Linked DNA regions of Homo sapiens. The protein of the gene in region 2 purifies or fractionates together with the protein of the main gene of each other region. This does not show direct contact. Each region holds a gene or a part of one and is shown on either strand. Other genes may lie near its edges.

Region 1 (12,243 bases), on a different chromosome or scaffold from region 2:
CCAATCTTAATGCCAACATTAGTTTGGTATTTATTGTCTGGAAATACTCCCCCTTCAATAATCTTTTTCAGAATCACATGTTCCTAGCTCTCATTACATTTTCATTTATCTGTGTTAACACGAATTTTTAAAAGAAACCTTAAAATGGGCAAGTCTTTCTAAGCAAAACACAAAACAAAGACACTATAAAGGGGAGATCGATATTTTTAAGTACATAAAATTAAAATTTTTTGCAAAGCCTAGAGACTGTATTACACAAAGTACAAAAAATAGGGTGGAAATAGTTATAGTACGTATGACAAAAGATTAGTATTCTCAATGTATAAATAATTCTTATAAATCAAAAGACAACCCCAGAGAAAAACAGATGAAGAAATGAATATACACTTTCTCTACTATTCTTTCCTTCCCTTTCCCTCCTCCTTTAATTTTTTGAGACAGGGTCTCACTCTGTTGCCCAGGCTGGAGCACAATGGCATAATCAGTGTAATCACAGCTCACTGCAGCCTCAATCTCCTGGGATCAAACAATCCTCCTGCCTCAGCCTCCTAAAGTGCTGGAATTACAGTACAAGCCACCGTACCTGGCTCCCCACCACTACTATTCTTAAATGACAAAGAGACAAGGGCTTCCAACTGGCACTATTTGTCAGCATACTTCTTGTGGTGCTCTAGAATTTGAGCAATGAACACTCTAGAACAGAGGCTAACAGTTCTCACCTGTAAGCTTGTTTCTTCAAGGAAGTGTTGCCTTAGAATCCAGATCCACAGTAAGCCTGAGAGTCTTAAAAACTTTTGACTTCAGAATCCTTCCACATGATTCAAGAAAAAGTTAAGTCCACTTCACAGGGTGACCAGAAAGTCCATGGGGACCAAATATCCAGTTTTCAGTCCTGTTGGGAGGTGAGATAAGAGGAAGTCAACTGAAGAAAGTTAAACATTTAAGCAATAAGGGGCTTACAAACAAACATAAATGACCTAACTACCATTAGAAGGCAATCTCAGACCCTGGGCACATACCCAGGGAAGGAATATACTTATATTCAGTGCAAAAATGCAGTCCACATGCTTGAGGGGCCAAAGAATGCCTTGAATAGAGGAACCTTCCCAGTGACCTAGAGAAAGGGTTCAAAGTTCTCAAGACCTCCTTGACAAAATGTGGTACATATACACAATGAAGTACTATTCAGCCATTAAAAAGGAGATCCTGTCATTTGCAACAATATGGTGCAGCCGGAGGTCGTTATGTGACGTGAAATAACCCAGACACAGAAAGACAAACTTTGCATGTTCTTACTCATTTGTGGGAGCCAAAAATTAAAACAATTGAACTGACTGAGATAGAGATCAGAATGATGGTTACCAGAGGCTAGGAAGGGTAGTAGGGGGGTTGGGGGAAAGCAGAGATGGTTAATGGGTACAAAAACACAGAAAGCAGGAATAAGATCTAGTATTTGATAGCACAACAGGGTGACTATAGTCAGTAATAATGTAACTATACATTTAAAAATAACTAAGAGTATCGTTAGATTGTAACACAAAAGATAAATGCTTGAGGTGATGGATACCCCATTTACCCTGATGTGATTATTACACATTGTATCTCATATACCTTGTAATGAGGGTTTATTATTACACATTGTATCTCATATACACCTATTACTAGGTACCCACAAAAATTAACTATCAAAAAAGAACTATTTGAGAAATAACAGCTCTATATACTCTCCTACAAATAAGAAAAGTAAAAAGAAAAAGAAAAAATGTCTTCTCAGCCATCAGGCAAAGCCAATTTTAGTAATGCTGAGCTCCTATTTTGGTAATGTTGAGCTTCTTTGATTCTTTGATGAGGGTTTCCAAGTCTTTAAAGTCAGATAAATTTAGATTTAAAAAAAGTCAAACCACTTCTGAAGTAGACTTGCCAAAAATGGCAAGCATGAACCTAATTAAGCCTCTAGATCTAACTTCTAGTTTACAGGAAATATAGGGGATAGAGAAGCAAGCCAAACCACACTCCACGAAAAGCAGCCCAACAGATCCAGAGTGTGAGGCACCCTACAGGCAATCAACCAAGTAACATCGACAGTCATTGGTATTGAGGAAACCCGCCAAGGCTGCTCTAGACTTGGGTCGGCAAACCACAGCCTGCGGGTAAGTCCAGCCTGTGGGTGGATTTTAAAACACAAAAGCTTTGGAAATTAAGTATTATTGGAACACAGCCATGCTTATCCATTTACTATCACCCCTGGCTACTTCTGCATGACGATGGCAGAGCTGAGCAGTTGTGGCAGAGACCATAGGGCCTGCAAAGCCTGAAAGAGCTGGTATCTGGCTCTTCACAGAGACATCTGCCACCCCTGCCCTAGATTGAAAGGGGCAACAGCTGAGCACGGTGGCTCACGGCTGTAATCGCAGCACTTTGGGAGGCAGAGGCAGGTGGATCACTTGAGTTCAGGAGCTCCAGACCAGTGTGGCCAACATGGTGAAACCCCGTCTCTACTAAAAATACAAAAATTAGTTGGGTGTGGTGGCATGCGCCTGTAGTCCCAGCTACTTGGGAGGCTGAGGCATGAGAATCACTTGAACCCAGGAGGCGGAGGTTGCAGTGAGCCAAGATTGTGCCACTGCACTCCAGCCTGGGTGACAAGAGTGAGTGAGACTCCGTCTCAGGAAGGAAAAAAAAAAAAAAGACCAGCCTGGGCAATACCTGTCTCCACCAAAAAAAAAAAAAAAAAAAAAAAAAAAAAAAAATAGCTGGGCATTGTGGCACATGCCTGTAATCCCAACTACTCAGGAGGCTGAGGTGGGAGGATGGCTTGAATCCAGGAGTTCGAGGTTACAGTGAGCCATGATCTCAGCAGAGCTGGTTCCTGTCTCAAAAAATAAAATAAAATAAAAAGGTAACAGTCAACAAATTCTTGTCTGGATGTGGATTCAAACAAACCAACAGTAAAAATAAGTTCATTTTTGAGGTGATCAGGGAAATCTGATCATGGACTAGGTTTTAGAAAATGTTAAGGAATTATTGTCAATTTCATCAGGAGGTGATAATTGTATTATGGTTACACAAGCAAATGCCCTTTCTCTGGAGAAACATACTGAACAATTTAGGGGTGAAGTGTTATGTTGTCTGGAATAAACTGCTTTAAACTGCTTCAGCCACAACCAAAAAAAGAAAAAAAAAGATGAAGTGGATATGGCCAAACAAGACTTGTGAAGTCCATTTGATGGATATATGGAAATTCATTCTACTTTGCTGGGCTTTTATGTTTGCTTAAAATTTTCCCAATAAGCAAAACAAACAAACAAACAAAATCAGAACCTTGATCAAAATGTAGAGGTTATCACTGGAGAGCCTTGCTTTCCAGGCACCCCCACCCCCGACCCCACCCCTCCTCTCGCGGAGTCCAGCCTCAGCACGCCAGTTGTTCACCTTTGTCTGAACACACTGTCATTTTCAGCTTCTTATTTTTGCTCATGGTGTTGGCCACCCTTTCCATTCCTGTGCCTATAAAAATCTGTTCTCTGCTTAAGGTCTCCCCAACTGTGACCTTCTCCTGGCCCTCCAGTGAGCACTCACCTCTCAGTTCCAACAGCACACTGCCTCTGGTTTCATTCTTCGCTACGTTCTAGCTATTTACCAGGTCTGTTACCTCATGATGCCATACAATCCCAGAGACTTCCAATAGCTAAGTCTTTTCTGTAAATCCATTTAAGGGGGTATCACGATGCCTTTTACGGAGCAAGCTCCGCAGTCCAGGGGCAGGTCCTCACGGCCTAAACACGGCTGCCTTATCCTGAGTAGTTTTACTGACAATAGAGCTTCAACTGAAGAATGAATTCCTGTTCAGCAGGACACTGGGCAGTCATGTTTAATTGAGAACTCTTAAAATTCCTAATAGAGTTTGCCTAGATGGAGGATGTTCTAAAGAGGGCTGCGAATATTTCGTGTTTCTGTCCTCTTACTGTCACCTTTCCTTGGGTCCTGTCCCCTCTTCAAGCATGGCTGCACTACACTTCCACACCAGCCTGCTGGTGTCCTAATCACTGGTAAGGGCCCTGGCTCGAGGTGGATACAAAGCCTCCCAATGACTTCACTTCAAGAATGGACACAGATTGGAAATCTTACTAGTAAAGAGAGAAATGAACAGATCATTTTAAAATCCCTCTTCTATTCTGCTTACTGCTACCTACTATCCAGATCACCACAAACAACCACCCTCTCCTAACTAGTAGTAGTTAGGGCCTGGTTAGTAAAATCAACTAGCCCAAAGTATTTCCGTACAAAAATCCACCAATTAGAAATTAATTTAACTTTGCAAACTCAGCTTTTACAATACGAATCTCTGCTAGAACACAGTGGTCTGCTTATTCAGGGAAGTCTGGCTTCTTCTGGGAATAGTTTCAGGAAAACAAGGCATTTTGGGAAAATACGGGCAAACTGCAGGTGCTCTTCATCTGAGCATTTCAATAAATTGAATGAGGCCAGGGAAAAGTCTTCACTTACAGGTAAATGTACATAAGGACACCTACGTGTGTGTAAGACCTACACTTTAAATAGGTCACCTTTAGTTTTTCATTAATCATTTCTCCTGGGACATTTAGCAAAACGAATAACTTGCTTTTAAAAAAGGCCACAAATCCCGGGTGCAGTGGCTCATGCCTGTAATCCCAACATTTTGGGAGGCCAAGGCGGGCGGATCACGGGGTCAGGAGTTCGAGACCAGCCTGGCCAACATGGTGAAACCCTGTCTCTACTAAAAACACAAAAATAAGCTGGGCGTGATAGCAGGCGCCTGTAATCCCAGCTACCCGGGAGACTGAGGCAGGAGAATCGCTTGAACCCGGAAGGCAGAGGTTGCAGTGAGCCGAGATCGCGCCACTGCACTCCAGCCTGGGCAACAGGGCAAGACTTCATCCCAAACAATAAAAAGGGCCAGAAATCGACTGCATTTTCTTATCACTTAAATATTAAATCAACTAAGCGTGGAGTTAAGAAGCTGTGTTCAAAAAACACTTAAGTCTGCTTTTGAGCTTGTGGCGTTGTCCTTGGCCCACAGAGTAAAACAGCAATGATAACCATAATTAATAATCAAGGCAGTAAATTTCTTCAAAATTTCAGAAGTTTCACTAATGGCTCCAAAGAAACCTTAGATCAGAAATTCACAAGTGCCAGGAGACGTTTTTAGATTTCTTTTGCAGCTTCTAGTCTCCTTACAAACAGGAAATCTTTAAAATGAAAAACAATTTCTGAGAAGTGTTAGCCCGGTTCAGCTGAGGTCCTCTGAAAGCCAGCGTGTGGGCTGTCACGCTTCCTTTACAGGGAAGCAGCGCCCGTGCGTGAGGCGGTTCCTGGCTTTTACCGCCCTCTGCCCGTTCTGGCAATCGCGCCCGTGGCCCCCGCGCGGGGCAATGGAGGACGCGTTTCGGGGTCCACCGTCCCCTCCCTCCGGCTGGCCTCGCCGGCCGGCGGCGCCCCAGGCCTCCTCCCTCACCCGCGGGGACGCCGAGTGCTGCGGCCTCGACCCGGACGCCGCGCAGGGAGCGACGCCCCAGGTTCCCGCGGGCGCCAGGACACCCCGCCTGGGGGGCGGAGCAGGCGCAGCCCCGACCCCCGCCCGGGCTCAGCGCCTCACCTGCCGGCAGCCGGGGCTGTCGGGGAGGGCAGGGCCAGGGCGGAAATGCAGGGCCGGGCCCGCGCCTCTGCTCCCAGGCCGCCCCCGGCGGCGCCCCCTGCAGGCGGAACGCGAGGCCCGCCAGCCCCTGCGGCGCCCTCGCACACACGTGGCCGCTCGCACAACTGGCCGCCTAACAGCCAGACCCACCCACGCCGATGCCCGCCGGAGACGCCCCGCCGCAGACACAGCGCAACCAGCTTCACACACCTGGGGACGCCCCACAGAAGTCACATCCACCCTAACACACCTGGGCACTCAGGCTCAAGCCCCGACTGCATGGTGGACCCTGACACACCTGGGCCACACCCCACAAAACAGACTCACAGACGACTCCACAAGCTTGGGGACACGCCACATCAAATGGACACACATGCACACACAAATGAACCCAAGCGCAGACACACTTGGGGATGCCAACCATGTGTGTATCTATCACATCACACACCACCAAGGCCCCCCAGCTGGGCATGCACACAGCCCTGATACCGAGTCCAGACCGCCATCTAGTCACACTGCCCACTTACTTACCAATACTCTTAAAATGAAACTGTGGCCGAAGGAGACAATGGAAGGATGACATCACCTCTTCCCTAGCTCCAGGACTAATTTAAGCCCCAGAAATTATAGGACTGAGAACCAAAATCGAAAGAGAACATTTTCCCTAGAGACAATGGGTTAAAGCAATGCCACTTGGGGGCCAGGTGGTAGGAATGGTACAGCTATGGAGAGAGTGACACTTCTGTCTCTCCGAAAGACACAAATCTGTGTTTATCAGATTAGCAATAATCCCCCTTAATCATTTCCTGCCCTTTCTACTTTCTCATGGATGTGGACTGATTGAAACCTTTATATAAACTGGTTTTTATCCAAACGTTTCCAACAATGCAGATGTAATTGTATTTTGAACAGATGTACAATTCCAAAAGAAATCTAAACCATCAGGTACATAAGTCGTTGGTTTTCACAGTTTTTTCTTGTCTTGGACACTTCATAATTAAATTGAAATGTATTAAAAAACCTTGTCTAGCTCATATTAATATTTTTTTTTTTTTTTTTTTTTTTTTTGAGACGGAGTCTCGCTCTGTCGCCTAGGCTGGAGTGCAGTGGCGGGATCTGGTTCACTGCAAGCTCCGCCTCCCGGGTTCACGCCATTCTCCTGCCTCAGCCTCCCAAGTAGCTGGGACTACAGGCGCCCGCCACTACGCCCGGCTAATTTTTTGTATGTTTAGTAGAGACGGGGTTTCACCATTTTAGCCAGGATGGTCTCGATCTCCTGACCTCGTGATCCGCCTGCCTCGGCCTCCCAAAGTGCTGGGATTACAGGCGTGAGCCACCGCGCCCGGCCTCATATTAATATTTTTAAAGACAGCAGTAATTCTTAACTTTTTGAAGCGAAAGAATGATTCCACTTTCATCTCTTTTTTGAGGGGGGAAAATCATGTCAGCAAAGGAAAGTGAGACAAATAGATAAATAATTCTTCTGATAAAGGAAAATTAAAGATGACGCAGACTAGACGAATTTTTTGTTTGTTTTGAGATGGGTTCTCACTCTGTCACCTAGGTTGGAGTACAGTAGCATGTTATTGGCTCATTGCAACCCCTGTTTCCCAGGCTCGAGTGATCCTCCCACCTCAGCCTTCTGAGTAGCTGGGACCTCAGGCACCCACCATCACGCCCGGCTAGTTTCTTGTATTTTTTGGTAGAGACAGGATTTCACCATGTTGCCCAGGGTGGTCTTGAACTCCTGAGCTCAGGCGATCCACCCGCCTTGGCCTCCCAAAGCGATGGGATTACAGGTATGAGCCACAGTGCCTAGCCAAGACAAGTGTTAAGTTGCATCCCAGATAAGGCTGGGGAAGCCCAATCTAACATAGAATAGGCTCTGTGGGATGAAGCCTTCAGTTTAACTTCTTGGAAAACAACTCACAGTTTGAAGAGCAGTTTTTGAAATGTGGTCCCAGTCCAGCAGCACTGGCAGCACCTGGGTATTTAGAAATGCACAATCTCCAGCCACACTGGAGGTGTCCTGACTCTGGGGGTCAACTCAGTGTCAGCAAGTCTGGGGGTGGGGCCCAGAGATGGACATTCTAATGAGTGATGCCAGTTCAAGTTTGAAAACCATCGCCTTTTGAGGATGTACCTCGGTGCTTCTCAAACTTTAACGTGCACGTCAGTCAACCCAGGGTCTTGTTTTAAAATGTAGATTCTGGTTCAGCTAGCCAGGAGTAGGGTCTAAGATTCTGCAGGTGGACAGAGGGTGCTAAGTGAAGATTTTCTTGTGTATAGACACACTCCAGGGTGCTGTCACTGTGAAGACAGCTCCACAGCAAAGCTTGGGTCTCATAGAGATAAAACTCACAAAGTGCCTCAAGGAAATAGACTGGTCAATCTAAGCAGGTCCCGGGCTTGTCAGTTTAGGGTTGGTCAGTTATTCAGGATCCCTTGGCAAGCCAACTGCTCTGGTAGCTTTTAGGAACTGGGTCGACTCACCAAGTCTGTTTGGTTGTGTCCAAATGGTACAATTGAGTCATTCACTGCAAAGGGTTCAGCTGCTCATTCTGGCCCCTTTGCTCTGCCTTTTTACAAACTCTCACATCCTCTAGGCTTAGGGTCATGCAGTCAGCAAATCACTATGCACCTGTATTAGTCTGTTCTTGCATTGCTATAAAGAGCTACCTGAGACTTGGTAATTTATAAAGAAAAGAGGTTTGACTCACAGTTCCACAGGCTGTACAGGAAGCATGGCTGGGGAAGCCTCAGGAAACTTACGATTATGGCAGAAGGTGAAGAGGAAAGAGTCACATCTTAAATTCTTAAACAGCCAGAGAAGGAGAAAGAGAGAGCAAAGGAGGAGGTGCCACAGAGTTTTAAACAGCCAGATCTTGTGAGATCTCACTCACTATCACGAGAACAGCCAGGGGGAAATCTGCCCCCATGATTCAATCACTTCCCACCAGGCCCTTCCCTGACACCCGGGATTACAATTCAGCGTGAGATTCAGGTGGGGACACAGACCCAAATCATATCAGCACCTGTTCAAAGCTCAGCAAACATTTTCCTTATCAACTACAAGGATTTAAACCAGCAAATTGTCTTTAACCAGAATTAACCAGTTTGGCATTTGTATTTGCCTAAATCAGAGCAGGTAATTGCTGAGCTCTGTTTTCCAGACCTGGGTGTAATAGATGTCTAATTTATATTCCTATTTAACTAAATACATTACTACTTAATATTATGCAAACGAGGCCAGCCTCCTCTGGGTGTTTCTCTCCTGCGTGCCTCCAGCATTGCAAGTAACGTCCAATAGAGGGGAAGATATCCCCTAAGTCTCTTGAAACTCTAGCTATAATGTGAGGTAAACAACCAAAAGGAGGGCTATATAAGGAGCTTGAAGTCCAACTGAATAACACCATAAAATCTACTGAAATATTACCAAATTATTTCAGTAAACCATTTAATAATCATCTTTGGGCCTAAAGAGCCTGCAGACTAAATCCAACCTGGTTGTCTATGGCCTTCAAACTAATAAAGAGTTTTACATTTTTAAATATTTGGAAAAAAATTCATAATAGTTCATGAGATTTAAGTTTCAGTGTCTGTATATAGAATTTTGTTTGTTGACACTGTCTGTGACTGCTTTCACAGGACAGCGGCAGCATTGAGTAGCTGCCACTGAGACCATATGGCCTGTAAAGCCTAAAATACTTAACATCTTCTTTTACAGAAAGTTTGCCCACGCTGCAAACTGTGTTTCTTGCTCTTGCCTCTGTTTCAACACCTTCCTCTCCTTTCTGTAACTGTCTCCCTACTGAACCCAGTTTCACGAGCACAGACCTTCATGCTTTGTGTGTATGTTTCAAGCACCTCGTGCCGTGAGGTTTACTTTCTGATCATTTCCCTGTGTAAACCAGTATGAACTTAACAAGAAGACTTTCAAATTTCAGCATAGGATTAGTAGGCTAATTTAGAAAATGCGTGTGCAAAAGATAGCAAATAGTGTATATTCTGCAAACCATTGGATTCCTTACTTCCACTTCTAAACCCGGCTCTAAAAAGTTGTTAAATTTGAAAACAGCAGGATTATTATTTCTTTCTGTGTGATTATTTTACTTGTTACAACAGGTCTCACTGCTAAACAATTTCCATGACAAATTAACGAGCAGAGAAAACCAACCTCACGAAGCTAAGTTCGCTCACTTTAAATTCAATCCCAGTATTTCTAGAATTAATGTTTTAAAGATGATGTGGGTTGCCGGCAGGTTTTTGTGAATAAGGCATTGACCTTTTCTCCACAAAAGATATGCAGTATCTTTTTTAAAAAGTGTATGAAATTTTCCAAGCAATTGCAGTTGAGATGGTTTATGCTATTCTTGCCATCTTCTGTAATTTCAGGAACAACAAGCAAAGACCGGAAGAAAGCACTATATGAGGTTATTTCCTTAGCTTTGTTGAATAAATCCCCAATCATGAATAGGAGAATAAGAATTCTCAGAAGTAATCTGACCAGCCAAATATACTATCCACCATGCTCAAAGCTAATGACATTGAAAGAGCTGTAGGCAGGCCACAGCCTCTCTAACCCTATCACCTTGCTGCCAATCAAGTCACTGCCCTGCTATTCAAGCAGTAACTTTTAAAAGGAAATAATGCTAATCTGGTGTCTAGAAATGTAGACATTACAAAATGAAATGTAGCTGGGTTCTCTTTGAGTGGTCAATGTGGGGAATTAAGGCATATTGAGTGGGCCTCATATGCCAGGCACGACATGACTCTTCTCGTGTCATCCTTTGAACAATAGTATGAACCAGATATTATTATCCCCATTCTACCTGTGAAATGGCTCTGAGAGGTAAAATAACTCACTCAAAGGTACACTGTAAATAAGCGTGCAATGGCTTGAACTCACACCCAGCTGAGCCGAAAACCTGTTCTCTTACCATGAGGTTTAAACGGGGAAGCTGGGTAATATACCCTGAACTGTATATTATCAGGACTTATCATTTATATTTGAACCTCTTTGTTAAAATTATTAGTTCCAGTAAGTAATCCTATACATGTAGTTCTCTCAGTGAAGCACTTTCACACACACGATCCATTTGATCCTTATTCTTGCATGAAATAGTAAAGACCAGGGAGAATTTCTTCTGCTTTGATTGGCACGTGGCCTGTCTGGGCCCAATCAAAGACCACCAGGTGCAAAACTGTAGTTGGATAAAGTCAGATTTATTGGCTCATTGCAAGGAGAGAAGACTGAGGCCAGAGGAATCCTGGGATGCCTCAGCAAAGGTAAAGTTTGAAGACTTAGGGGAGGGGTGGCGTGTAGGTGAAATTTAAAGGAAAGAGTGTTTTGACAGGTTCAAGGCAGACAGAGCTGTGAGTACAGATCAACATCAGGTCTGGAGTCTGGGGGTCTACATCCTTGGAGACTAGAGTTAATATAGATGCAGACTGGCACACCCAGAAACCCTTTAAGGGAAGTTCTGCACCCAGGTTGGAAATAGAGGCTGCTTGTTTGTTTCAAGGAGACTCGGATCCCCCGGGTAAGTTGAGATGGTTCCGTCCTGATGATTTCAAACAGCAAACCTTCTGATAGTCAATGCTTTTCCAGAAGGAAGCCTCTCAGTGAGTAAGAAAGCAGCAAGCACCCAAGGACGGGGGTGATTTGACCTGATATGACATCCGTGTGTCCTTGGAGGACGTATTTCCCGCTCCCTCTGCTGCTGTCGTTATCTGTGCTATCTCAGCCTGATGGATGGCAGGGGGCAGAAGTTTACTTTTTCAGTCTGAGATACCTTTTTAACTGATCAGGCCATATCAGGACTAGAAACCTTCAAAATACTTTATTTCCATGCGGGTGTTGGCATTTCAAACATTATGATATTTCACAACAGATTTTGATGAGGATTTGCATAAGCATGCAAAGCAGCTCACCTTTATAACTTCTTCCAGTGGACTTCTCTATAAGAGTTCATGTTTTTTTAAAAAAGGATAAAGCATCTAGGTATTTTTGAAGACTCCTGGGTTAGTCCAATCTTATTTCATAGAGGAGAAATTAACCAAAGCAAGGACAACTACTGATAGTGACAGGAGGCAGCCAAATGCCTAGGCAGGTAGGGCAGGTCCCCAGTGAAACGCCACCTTCAGGCCAAAAACAGCCTGAAAGCTGAAAGATCGGATTGCCGGTCCCGGATGAAGTCTGCAACCCAGAGTGAGAACTTCTGTTCCTTTTTGCCCATCCTTTCCCAATTGATTCTTTCTGAATTATGCCTTTTAACTAATCAAATGTTGCCTTTTCCAATATTACCTACAGCCTGCCCCTTCTCCATTCTGAGCCCATAAAAAGCCTCAGACTCAGCCATATTAGGGGAACTTTCCCACCTTTGGGTAGGGGCACCACCCCGGCGTCCCCTCTCCATGAAAGCTATTTCATCATTCAGTAACCCCGCCTTGCTCACGCTTTGATTGTCAGTGCATCCTCATTCTTCTTGGGTGTAAGACAAGAACTGGGGAATCAGTGCATAAGCTTGACCGGGCCTGGGCAGGCTGAGTGGGCAGGCTGTGTCCTG
Region 2 (12,364 bases):
TCAACTGCAGGGAGACACAAAGAGCCATCAGGGTGGGAGTGGAGGGCCTGGTCCACTGGGGCAGCTGCACATACACCCCTTCAAGGGCGCATCTGTGGGTGCTGAGGGCCCAGGAGCCTGGGAGGCATGCAAAGATGTCAGGGGCAAGGCAGCCTTGCTGGTGAGTCGGGACTTGAACCTGCCCCTAGCACAGCCCAGAACTGCTTCACACATACCCACCCCTGGGGCTGGAACGCAGCCTGGAGGAGGGTGGGACCCCAGCCCAGAGGAGGGTGGGACCCGGCCTGGAGGAGTGGGTACCCAGCTGGCAGACGGTGGACTTACTCACAAACTCCCTCCGAGCTAGCAGGAAGCGCCCAGAGCCAGTGAGCTCGAAGATCTGCAAGGTGTAGCCCTTGGAGGGGCTCAGGCCCCCCACTGTGGCCTTAGGGGTCTTGGTGGTCAGTATCACCTCCTGTTCCGAGTCCCCTGGGTAGGGGTGGGGAGAGCTTTAGAGGCCAAGGTGCACACGTGTGTGCATCTGTCACGGCGGGGAGTGAAACCCTCTTGGCTCCTCCTCCCCACCCCAGCTGCTCCCCTTGAAGCCAGAGAGACAGAAAGGGAGAGGGTCTGATGGAAGGGACATGGGCTCCTGGGTAATAATGTGACAGAGAATGGGGGTCTTGGGGCGGTGAAAAGAAGATGTCACTTACTAAACCCCCCTAGAGGAATCCGCCGCATGGTGAGGTGAGAAGCCATCAACCCTCAGAGATACTGTCAAGGTATGAAGACAGGGCTGCCCAGGGAGGGGATGACGACCCGAGGGGCCAGGTCCAAGAAGGAAGAGTCCGGGGCCAGGGCCCTGCCCACTCCCACAGGCTCCTACCCTATGGGCTGCACGGACCGACCAGCCGCAAGTATTTTCTGCTGTGTGACTCCATGATTCTAAAGTTAGGTCTGGATTTCAAGTGTGAAAAGCAAACAAATGATTCCAAAGGGGACACTGCCATATTCTCAGAGGAAAGAGCAAGAAGAAATGGCCTTGAAAGAGCACTCAGGAGGCAGCAGTCAGACCTGGAGAGGCACTGTGAGCACTGGGTGATTCTCTGGGTCTCAAGTGCTAAGGCAAGGGAGAAAAGGGCAAGAAATCCACACTTGCACACCTCGAGGGAGGGAGGGAGGGAGGAACCCACACCTGCGCACCTGCAGGGAGAAGAGGAGGGAGGAACCCACACCTGCACACCTGGAGGGAGGAAGGGAGGGAGGAACCCACATCTGCGCAGCTGGAGGGAGGAAGGGAGGGAGGAACCCACACGTGCACACCTGGAGGGAGGAAGGGAGGGAGGAGCCAGCACCTGCACACCTGGAGGGAGGAAGGGAGGGAGGAACCCACACCTGCGCACCTGCAGGGAGAAGAGGAGGGAGGAACCCACACCTGCACACCTGGAGGGAGGAAGGGAGGGAGGAACCCACACCTGCACACCTGGAGGGAGGAAGGGAGGGAGGAACCCACACCTGCACACCTGGAGGGAGGAAGGGAGGGAGGAACCCACACCTGCGCACCTGCAGGGAGAAGAGGAGGGAGGAACCCACACCTGCACACCTGGAGGGAGGAAGGGAGGGAGGAACCCACACCTGCGCACCTGGAGGGAGGAAGGGAGGGAGGAACCCACACGTGCACACCTGGAGGGAGGAAGGGAGGGAGGAACCCACACATGCACACCTGGAGGGAGGAAGGGAGGGAGGAACCCACACCTGCACACCTGGAGGGAGAAGAGGAGGGAGGAACCCACACCTGCACACCTGGAGGGAGAAGAGGAGGGAGGAGCCCACACCTGCACACTGGGAGGGAGGAAGAGAGGGAGGAACCCACACCTGCACACCTGGAGGGAGGAAGGGAGGGAGGAACCCACACCTGCGCACCTGCAGGGAGAAGAGGAGGGAGGAACCCACACCTGCACACCTGCAGGGAGAAGAGGAGGGAGGAACCCACACCTGCACACCTGCAGGGAGAAGAGGAGGGTGGAACCCACACCTGCACACCTGGAGGGAGGAAGGGAGGGAGGAGCCAGCACCTGCACACCTGGAGGGAGGGAGGGAGGAAGGGAGGGAGGAACCCACACCTGCACACCTGGAAAGAAAAGGGACACCATCCTCCCTGTGCAGTGAGTGGCTCCCCACAGCCCTACCCAGCCCCGCGCCAGGGAGTGACCAGCCAGGGAGGACCCTCTGTTCTTGGCTGAGCAAATGGGAGGCAGGGGTGTTGTCATTACCATCAACAGCTAACTGTTATTGAGTTTTCACTGTGTGCCTGGCAGTATCCTAAGCATTTCACAGGTATCAAGCCTCATAATCTTCACAACTCCATTACACCCATTTTATAGATAGGAAAACTGAGGCACAAAGGACCAATCACACAGCTACTCCGCAGTAGAAGTGGGATAGAAGCCCAGGTCTGTCATATTCCCAAGGCTTCCTGCACAAACACGTGATTAACAAGCAATGACAATAATGAAAAAGTTTTATGACATTTAATATAAATATAGAATTTTAAAAGCCGGGCATGCCTGTAATCCCATCTACTTGGGAGGCTGAGGTGGCAGAATCACTTGAGCCCAGGAGTTTGAGTCCAGCCTGGGCAGTATAGTGAGACCCCATTTCAAAAATCAATAAATAAACACAAGTGCTTGAAAATGGGATAAATATTATTGTGATGTTCTAAGGTCCTAGCGTTGCCTGGGGACAGCTGAGACAACCATTATGTATATCATATGCTGATAAATCAAGGCTGTATGTTGTGGTCGCTAGTGTGGTTACTTGAAGGGTAAAAGAATATAGAATCACCAAGTTGATGGCATCAGGGAATAATCACCCCATACCTACTGAACAATCTTAACTTCACAAGACACACCAGACATTATGTACCGCCAGCTGTGGTAACGCAGGAGTTACACAGCACCACTGATAAAGAATTCTTGTTAACAAATATAATCAAACTTGAGTCTGACCAAACTTCCAGGATGTAACTGCCAGTCTATGGGAGACAGGGTGGAGAGACGAAGGAGCGAGCTAAACGGCTCCCCAAAGATGCCACTGGCAAGAGAAGAAAGTGGGAAGTTCGACAGAACAATCTTGTTTCTTCTTCTACAAATAAATGTCAAGGAAAAGGGAGAGGGGGAAACTGCTTTAGATTAAAAATTGCTTAAGACACAGGAACCAAACACAGTGTGTAGACTCTGTTCACACCCCAATTCAGACAAATCAATTGTAAAAGACATGCATCAAGACCAGGCGCGGTGACTCACGCCTGGAATCCCAGCACTTTGGGAGGCCGAGGCAGGTGGATCACCTGAGGTCAGGAGTTCGAGACCAGCCTGGCCAACACAGTGAAACCCCGTCTCTACTAAAAGTACAAAAATTAGCTGGGCGTGGTGGCACGTGCCTGTAATCCCAGCTACTCAGGAGGCTGAGGCAGGAGAACTGCTTGAACCTGGAAGCAGGAGGCTTCAGTGAGCCAAGATCATGCCACTGCACTCCAGCCTGAGTGACAGAGTGAGATTCCATCTCAATAATTAATTAATTAATAAAAGACATGCATCAAGTTAGAAAACTCTACACAACTAAATATTCCATGATAGTACTGAAACATTTTAAATTTGGGAGCTGCTCATGGTATTGGGGTTATGATTGAGTCTTTTAGAGAAACATATTGAAATATTTATAGACAGGATTATATAATGCCTGGGATTTGCTTTAAGATAATATAGAATGTAGAGGGGGGTTGAGGAGAGGGACATAAAACAATATTGGCCGCACGCTGATAATTGCTGAAAGCTGCATCATGAAAACATGAGGTTTCATTATACTATGGTCTCTTCTTTTGCCTGTGTTTAAATTTTTCCATTGAAAAATCAGTTCAAACAAAGACAAGAAAGCGGAGAATAAAAACTTATAACAAGTGTAATAAAAAGGGAAGATTATAGATATAAACTCAAATGTATCATTAATTTCATTAAATATAAATGGAAAAAATCTTTTAATAAAAAGACAAAGACTGTCACACTGGGTGAAAACAATACCCAATTATATGCTGCTTAGAAGACACATCTAAAATGAAAGGCTGGAGAAAGATTAACAGTAAAAGAAGGAGAAAGGAGATTTAATGCAAACACTACCTGGTGAAGCAATAGTACCATCACAAGTAAGATGTAAGGAAAAAAACAGCACTAGAGAGATAATGAAGAGCATTTCAAAATGAAAAAGGGTCAACCTACCAGGAAGATACAATCATTCTAAGTTTGTATGTACCCAATAACAGAGCCTCATGCATAAAGCAAAGAACAGTAAGACAACCACAAGAAAGACACATCTACAATTAGAATGGAGATTTGAAATACTTTTTTCAGTAACAGCATAAGTAGACCCCAAACATAGTAACTATATAAAAAATCTGAAAAATAAGGTAAATGACTTAATTAGAACATTAGAAAACTCTACCCAACAACTGCAAATTGCATATATTTTCAAAGTCACATGGAACATTGACCAAATTGATCATATGCTGGACCATAAAGCGAGGTACTTTTTTTTTGAGACGGAGTCTTGCTCTGTCACCCAGACTGGAGTGCAGTGGTGCCATCTCGGCTCACTGCAACCTCCACCTCCCAGGTTCAAGCGATTCTCCTGCCTCAGCCTCCCGAGTAGCTGGGATTACAGGTGTGTGCCACCACGCCCAGCTAATTTTTGTATGTTTAGTAGAGACGGGGTTTTGCCATGTTGGACAGGGTGGTCTCAAACTCCTGTCCTCAAGTGATCTGCCCACCTTGGCCTCCCAAAGAGCTGGGATTATAGGCGTGAGCCACCACGCCCGGCCAGCAAGGTACTTTCCAAAGGACTGAAAGCATATTGTACATTTCTGGCCACAATGCAATGAAGGAAGAAATCCAAAACAAAAAATAAGTAGAAAATCCCCCATGTTTTAAAACTGAGAAACACACTTCTAAGTAGCCTATGGGTCAAATAAAAATATCGTAACAAAAATTAGATATTTTTACCTGAATGATAATGAAAATTCTACATATCAAAATGCAGCTATAGCTACTGCTTAGAAGAAAATTCAATAGTTTTAACTTTATATCTTGTAAAAGGGCAGAAAATCAATGAACTTAAGCATCCATCTTAAGTTAGAGCAGAAAATTAAACACAGAGTAAAAGAAATAGAAACAACAATAAAAAATAAACAAAATCAACGACAGACCAACCAAGCCAAAATGTGTTTTATTAAAAGACTAATAAAGTAAATAAACTTCCAGACTGCCTTTTGAAAGCAGAGAGAAGATTCAATCAATAACGGGAATGAAAAGGGTGCTATAACTATAGAGTCTATGGGGTAATATGAAAAACATTATGCCAACTAATCAGGAAATTTATATAAAATACAAATTCCTGTTTAAAAAACTAACTTACCAAAACTGACCAAAAAAATTAGAAAATCTGAGTAGTCCTATGTCTGTTAAGGAAATTGAATCAATTATGTGAAGTATTTACACACATACACACACACCACAAGCCCAGAAGTCAGTACCAGTGAATTCTAGCAAACATTTAAGGAAAAAAATACCACCAACATTACACAAACTCTTCCAGAAAACAGAATAAGAGGAATCCTTCCCCACCTCATCTTATGAGGTATAAAGCTGATACCAAACTTTAAAAGGACTTTATAAGAAAGGGTAGTTATTGGCCAATATTCCCTCATGAATATAAGTATAAAAATCTTAAATGAAATATTTGCAAATTGATTTAATAACATATAAAAGGGGATAGGCCAGGTACAGTGGCTCACCCCTGTAATCCCAGTGCTTTGGGAGGTCAAGGTGAGAAGACTGCTTGAGGCCAGGAGATGGAGGCTGCAGTGAGCTATGACTGTGCCACTGCACTGTGCACTCCAGCCCGGGTGACAGAGTGAGACCCTGTCTCTTAAGGTATACATATATATATACACACACACACACACGTACATATATATATACACACAACGTATATATGTATACACACACACGTATATATACATATATATGTATATATGTATATATTATGTTTAATATTTAAAAAATCAATCACTGTAGTTTACTACATTAATCAAATAAAGGAGAAAATAACCACCTCACTGAAGAAAAAGTTTGGAAAAAATAATGCATTCTCTTGACAAAAACTCAGCCTTACGTAGGAACAGCACAGGACTGAACCTGATAAGGTCCATCTATCTGGAAAAGGCAAAACAGAAAACAGCTCAGTGGTTACGGGCACTGGGCTAAGGGCTGACCTTGGGGTAACAGAACTGTTCTCTACATCAATTGTGATAGCGGCTACAGGATTGAATTCATGTGATAAATACAAATCACAGACCTCTTCTCAAAAGGGTGAAGATTTCTGCACGTAAATTACAGCTCCACAAAGAAACACAGGATACCACTGAACACCCACCAGAGTAGCTCCAGTCAGGCTGCCAAGCGTTGGTTGCCAAGGGTGTCATGCAACGGAAGCAATCATACAGTGTTGACGGGAGTATACACTGGCACGACCCCTTTGGAAAATAGTTCAACATTTTCTACTAACGTTGAAACTATGCACACACTGTGGCACTTCCACTCCTGGGTTTACACCCAGAACAGGCGCACGGACACCAGAAACACACGCGGGATCCCTCACACGGCGTCTACACAACAGCCAACCTGGACACAAGCCACATGTCCATCAATAGCAGAAGAGATCACACAGGGGAATACTATACAGCAAAGAAAATGGACGGCTGTTACACACCACGGGGCAAACCTCACAAAATGCCCACCAAAGACACAGACATGAGGGAGTCGCCATGGTGTGATTCCACTTAGAGAATGTTCTGAAACAGGCAAACTAGTCCATGCTGTTGGAGGCGGCCGTCCAGGGAGCAGGGGAGGGTGGACGTTGGCAAGGGCACCGGGGCACCCGGGACGGTCGTTTTCCACCCCAGGAGGGGTTTGAGTTGGCCACCCCACAGTGCTGATTCATACAGTTAGCATTTATGCCTGTGTGCTTTTCCATCTGAGTTTTGAAAAGCTTTAAAATTAGCACCCATTGTCAGGTTAGGACTGTTCCTGCTCTAGGAACAGGGTTCCCTGAAAAGGTGTCCTCAAGGCCCTGCTCCTGGAAACAAGGATTAACGCGTGGGGAGCAGGTGCTTCTGGGGTTCGCTGTGCGGAGTCCAGGCTGTTCTGAATGCCCCTGACGCATTGAGACTCGTTCTGAGGAGGGAGTCGTTTCTTTAAAAAATATGGACCGGGCATGGTGGTTCACGCCTGTAATCCCAGCACTGTGAGAGGCTGAGGGGGGCGGATCTCCTGAGCCCAGTTCAAGACCAGCCTGGGCAACATGGTGAAACCTCTTCTCCACAAAAAATACAAAAATTAGCCAGGAGTGGTGGCACGCACCTGTACTCCCAGCTACACAGGAGGCTGAGGTGGGAGGATCTCCTGAGCTCGGGAGATTGAGGCTGCGGGGAGCTGTGATCGCACCACTGCACTCCAGTCTGGGCAACACAGCAAGACCCTGCCTTTAAAAAAAATTAAAAATTGAAATTAAAAATCAAAAAAATTAAAAGTATGTACTGAATGCCTTCTGCAGGGGCTGCGTGCCAGGGACAGAGGAGCCCCATTCCCTCTTCCATGTCATATGTGACGGGGGAAAGGAATGTGGGTCAGCAGAGACCAAGGCCAGAGAGGTGCTGACACTAAGGGGCTGGTGGGAGGGATGCTGTGGGCCTGAGTGGTGGCTGCGGCCACCACACTGACTGTCCTCGGCACGTGCTAATGGGGAAGGGGGCCTGGGAGGGGCAGGTCCTCACCTGCCATGGGCTTCACCTGCACCAGGTAGCCGAGGCCGCTCCCCTCCGACTCTCTCCACTTCATCTGCAGCCGGTCCTCAGGCAGCACAGCCAGCCTCAGGAGACCGCTTGCTACAGAAACAGGACATAGTGGTCAGGACTGACCTGGCCTCCCCATCCACCTAATCAGCTGTGGGGGTACAGGCATCCTGCCCTCAGCATTTGGGAGGAACACAGTCCTATCCCGGGGGACCCCGAAGAGACAGAAGCCCACCCAGGGTGTCTGAGGCGGACTCAGCCCCACTTGGGGATACGAGGCCTCGCCTGGGCGCTGAGGAGAACCCGGCCCTCCCCGGGGTCCGCAGTCACAGGGCCACCCTGGTAGCTTTGGTGAGAGGGAGTCCAGTCCCACCCAGGGAGGCCCCAGCCTGGCTCTCCGGGGGTCCTCCCACCAGGAAGAGGCTCAGGCCCATGTCTGGGAGGACAGCAACCACCCCACTGATGATCGGAGGCCCCGAGCCAACACAGCAGCTGGCAACCTGCCCAGGGCCCTGAGCTGAGTCCCCTGAGCTGGGGCCCCTGGGCTGAGTCCCCGGGCTGGGTCCCCTGAGCTAAGTCCCCTGGGCTGGGGCCCCTGGGCTGAGTCCCCTGGGCTGGGTCCCCTGAGCTGAGTCCCCTGAGCTGGGTCCCCTGGGCTGGGTCCCCTGAGCTAAGTCCCCTGAGCTGGGGCCCCTGGGCTGAGTCCCCAGGCTGGGTCCCCTGAGCTAAGTCCCCTGGGCTGGGGCCCCTGGGCTGAGTCCCCTGGGCTGGGTCCCCAGGACAAGTGGCCATGCAGCTGCAGACCCCTAGCTGCCAAGGTCACTGCCAGGTGCACGTGCCGCCTCAGTGGGGAGTGTGGGTGCAGAATCCCACACTGGAAGTGTGTGCACATTGGCACGTGTGTGCACGTTGGTACATGTGTGCGTCCATGCCAAGACGAGGCTGCCTCCCGCGATGGGGGATGGGTGTCCAGGCCATCTGAGAGGAAGAGGGGGCGGCAGGGGCCTGGCCAACCTCCCAGGGCTCTGGAGAGGGTTGGTGCCCCCTGAAAGCTTCCGGGGCTCTGCAGTAGGGGCAGCTATTTTTGGAAAATGGGGACAGAGATGGGCTTCTTTGGGCTGCCCCCCGGAAAGCTGGGGCTCGGGGGGAAGAGCAGGGGCTGGGGGGCACTGGGGCAGACACAATGACCCATTCAGAGCAGGCAGCAGCTGGGCCGGGTCTCCGGATGGGGCTGAAAGGCAGGAATGTGTGGGGGATGAGGAGGGGGCTCTGAAGGCCAGCTGTGAGCAGGGCCCCTCCCGCAGCCCCTGCTTGTGAAGAGCCTTCTGTTGCTCCACTCTGCCTGAGAACGTCAGGGACCCCTTCCCCAGCTCCCTGCTGGAGGACAGCACTGTTGGGGCCTGAGCAGGGCACTGGGCAGACAGCGGCTGGTGGGAAGGGCCCCACCCAGGACCACGCTCCCCTCCCTGGACTGTGGCCGCACCCAGCCTGGGCCATCCTGGGAAGGGCTGCCCCAGCGTGTGGGCTCCCACCCGTCCTGGGCTGGACTCAGTGCCCCCAGCCCACCTGGCTGTCCTCAGGGACTCAATGGCCCCCGAAAGGCCCTTGTGAGGGGTGGCCCCATCATGCTGAATCCTGAACTAGATAGAACTAGATTTGCCTTCGCCTAAACTCAAGTTGTTTCTGTAGAAGCAACTTACTGATTTGGCTCAAATTGACAGTGCAAGCTTCTTTCAAACTGAAATCTCAGCCCCCACTGGCCCCAGGGCAGGGTTACCCTGTCTGAGCTGAGGGGACCAAGGCACCTGCTCATGCAATGGTCTGTTGCCTGTGTGCAGGGCAAACCTGGCACATCAGCATGGCAAGACAAGCCGTGAAACCCGGAAGGGTCTCAACAGGCGGCTCCACGCTACACCGGGGCTCCCGCATCTCACCCGCCCTTCTGCAATGGCAGCGGCACCTGGAGGCTCCCTCGCCCCGGCCTGTCAGGCCCTGGTGGGGGTGCTTTAAACGCACAGTAGAAGGGGGAGCTGCCTTTCACCCCAGCGGAACAAAACCATCGCTCAGTGGGAGCCCGGAACCTCCCAGGAGCTTGCAGGTGCCGGGAGGCGCCGCGTTGGCCCAGCCCAGGGACAAGTTTACAGCGTGGCCGAGGCCCCGGAGCCTTCTCCATAGACACGGAAATTCACCTTCCTAGAGTCAATCTAAACCCACATTTCTCAACAGGAGGAAGAAGCTGCTCAGACAGGTGAGCCCACAGCATCCTCTGCCATTTCCCTTTGCTGCCATGGGCGGTGCCCTACGTTACCCAAACGCCCCAACCAGTAGCAGCCAGACTGGAGGGGCCTTCTGAGGACGTGGTGCTGTCGCCCAGGGATGCGCACGGAGGGGGTGGTGCTGCGTGGAAATGCGAGTGCCGCACCGAGAGAAGCCAGAGGGCTATGTGCCCAAAACACCAGTGGGAGGCGGCGGTGGGAAGCAGGCAGGAGGGAAGGGAAGGCGGCTCCATCTTTACCCCAGCCTCCTGCTTCCTAGAGACTGCTCCGAAAGGTGTTCGTGGAATAACTCTCGGCCAAGCATTAATATAACAGAGAACTAAACCACAGAGATGTGCTCCCAAGGCGAGGCTGAAGGTTTGGCGGGAGCACACGCTCCCTCCCGTCTTGCCTTTGTTGTGGGAGCTGCTGTGAATTCAGCACGCATTCAACTTAGGAGGAAGACGGGGCTCAGGGGCGGAGGGCTCGTCCCGCGTGGGCACTGGTGGGGCAGGCGTGGCCTCGGGGCAAGCAGGGGCCCACTGCCAGTGTCCTTACCTTGAACTTGCTCTCTTCCCAGGGTGGCGCCCAGCCACAGCCAGAGGCAGAGGCCGAGGTGTGCAGGGTCTCCGGAGCTCATGGTGCTCGGGCTGTGGCAGGGAAGAGGCCATGCCCTTCAGCCGTCCCCCCGTCTGTCCTCTCCCTGACCACAACGCCAGAGCTTCTCCAAATCCTCGAGGGCCAGGCAGCCTGTCCCCACACCGGGCTCCACCCCTCACATGTGTGAGGACCAGAGGCCTGCAACCTGTTGTCTAGGGGATACCTCCCAGCTGCCTAAAACTCAAGGACCCAAGGCTAGAGCTGGGGCTGCCTCCCACTCCCACCCCACTCTTGGCATTTACACCACCGGGGGCTGCTCTGAGTGACAACAGGACCCCCAGCCCCCAGTTGTCCCCACGCCCAGTGCAGGGGTGGCTGGGACGGGCACGGGGCCTCCTGCTTGTGGGGCTCCCGAGGGCCACGGAGGGCTGAGGCAAGGGGCGAGCTCTCCAGGCAATGTCTGATTGCTGGACATGTGGAGTCCCTGTGGCCCCAGCCTCGCCCTGGAGGCGGAAGGGTCATCAGAGACCTGTGGAGGAGAGTGAGAGCTGCCTAGTAGGAGTGGGGAGCGGGTGGGTCTGGGGGACGCCAGCCGGGGGTGCAGGGTGTGTGTGCCACGGGCACACGGCTCTGAGGCCGAGACAGGGAGGCCGCCAGGGCCACTGGAGAGCTGAGTGGGCTACAAGGAGGACCAGAAAAAACCAGGCCCGGCCCACTCAAAGGGGCTGGGAGTGGAGGTTGGATTTGGGGTGCTCTGAGGAGCAGCTGAGGGGGACTCAGAGGCCAGGGTAACCCAGTGACCAGTGCCCAGAGGTGCCACTCGGAGAGGTGGGGAGCATGTCAGCTGCCAGGCCCGAGTCCTCCACCTGCCACCACGCCCAGGGCTGAAGAAGAAATGCCGGGGGTTCACTTGCACTCCGTTCCCCTGCACCCCCAGTCCCCTGCACCCCCAGTCCCCTGCACGCCCCCTCCCCCGCACTCCCCTCCCCCCGCACTCCCCCTCCCCTCACACTCCGCTCCCCTGCACTCCCGCTCCCCGAGACTGCTCATGCCAGCCCCTCACCCCACGCACCAACTCGGGCCTTCAGAAAGCAGACAGAGCACTCCCGGCAGGCCGGGCCCCTACCCCTCTGTGCTGAGCTGAGGGCATGGCTTGAGTGCAGGCCCTGGTTCTGTGAGCCCCAGCCTCCCACACAGTAGGGTTCTAGGGTCCTGAGTGACCCAGGCCCTCCCACCCCCTGCAGCCGAACAGAGACCCCCCCAATACACGCCCCCTCCCAGTGTGTGACCCCAGTATCCCCACCAGGGAATCTGCTCCTCTGCAAGGGAAAGGCCTCACCCGGCGGGAAAGCCACCGGCTTAAATCAGGGATTTCATGCCCGCCCGGCCGGCCAAGGGCAGTCAGGTAAGACCCAGGCATTGGAACAGGAGGCACCTGAGGGCTGGGCTCCCAAACTGATCACAGAGGCACCAGTGGGCAGCCCGAGTGCCCCCAAGTCCCTGGATCCTCCCACCCCAGAAACCTGGCTTGACTCAGTGGGACCCCTGCCAGGGCCACAGGCATCCAGCCTGAAGTGCAAGCCGCTCTCTGCTCGATGTGCACCCTCCTCGTTCCCCCACAGCCCTG

What was found.
Region 1: the proteins of COL20A1 (region 2) and GGACT purify together in Homo sapiens (affinity purification with mass spectrometry; 2 studies listed by BioGRID and IntAct, with this or other methods). This does not show direct contact.

The regions. Positions count from the first base shown.
Region 1 is NC_000013.11:100,583,106-100,595,348, forward strand, and holds the start of GGACT (gamma-glutamylaminecyclotransferase), read right to left. Parts: upstream 5,685-12,243; 5' UTR 5,636-5,684; exon of another isoform or gene 5,495-5,635; intron 893-5,494; 5' UTR 720-892; intron 1-719. UniProt on the Homo sapiens protein: Contributes to degradation of proteins cross-linked by transglutaminases by degrading the cross-link between a lysine and a glutamic acid residue. Catalyzes the formation of 5-oxo-L-proline from L-gamma-glutamyl-L-epsilon-lysine.
Region 2 is NC_000020.11:63,293,521-63,305,884, reverse strand, and holds part of COL20A1 (collagen alpha-1(XX) chain precursor), read right to left. Parts: intron 10,788-12,364; 5' UTR 10,778-10,787; coding exon 10,696-10,777; intron 7,976-10,695; coding exon 7,865-7,975; intron 469-7,864; coding exon 325-468; intron 5-324; coding exon 1-4. UniProt on the Homo sapiens protein: Probable collagen protein.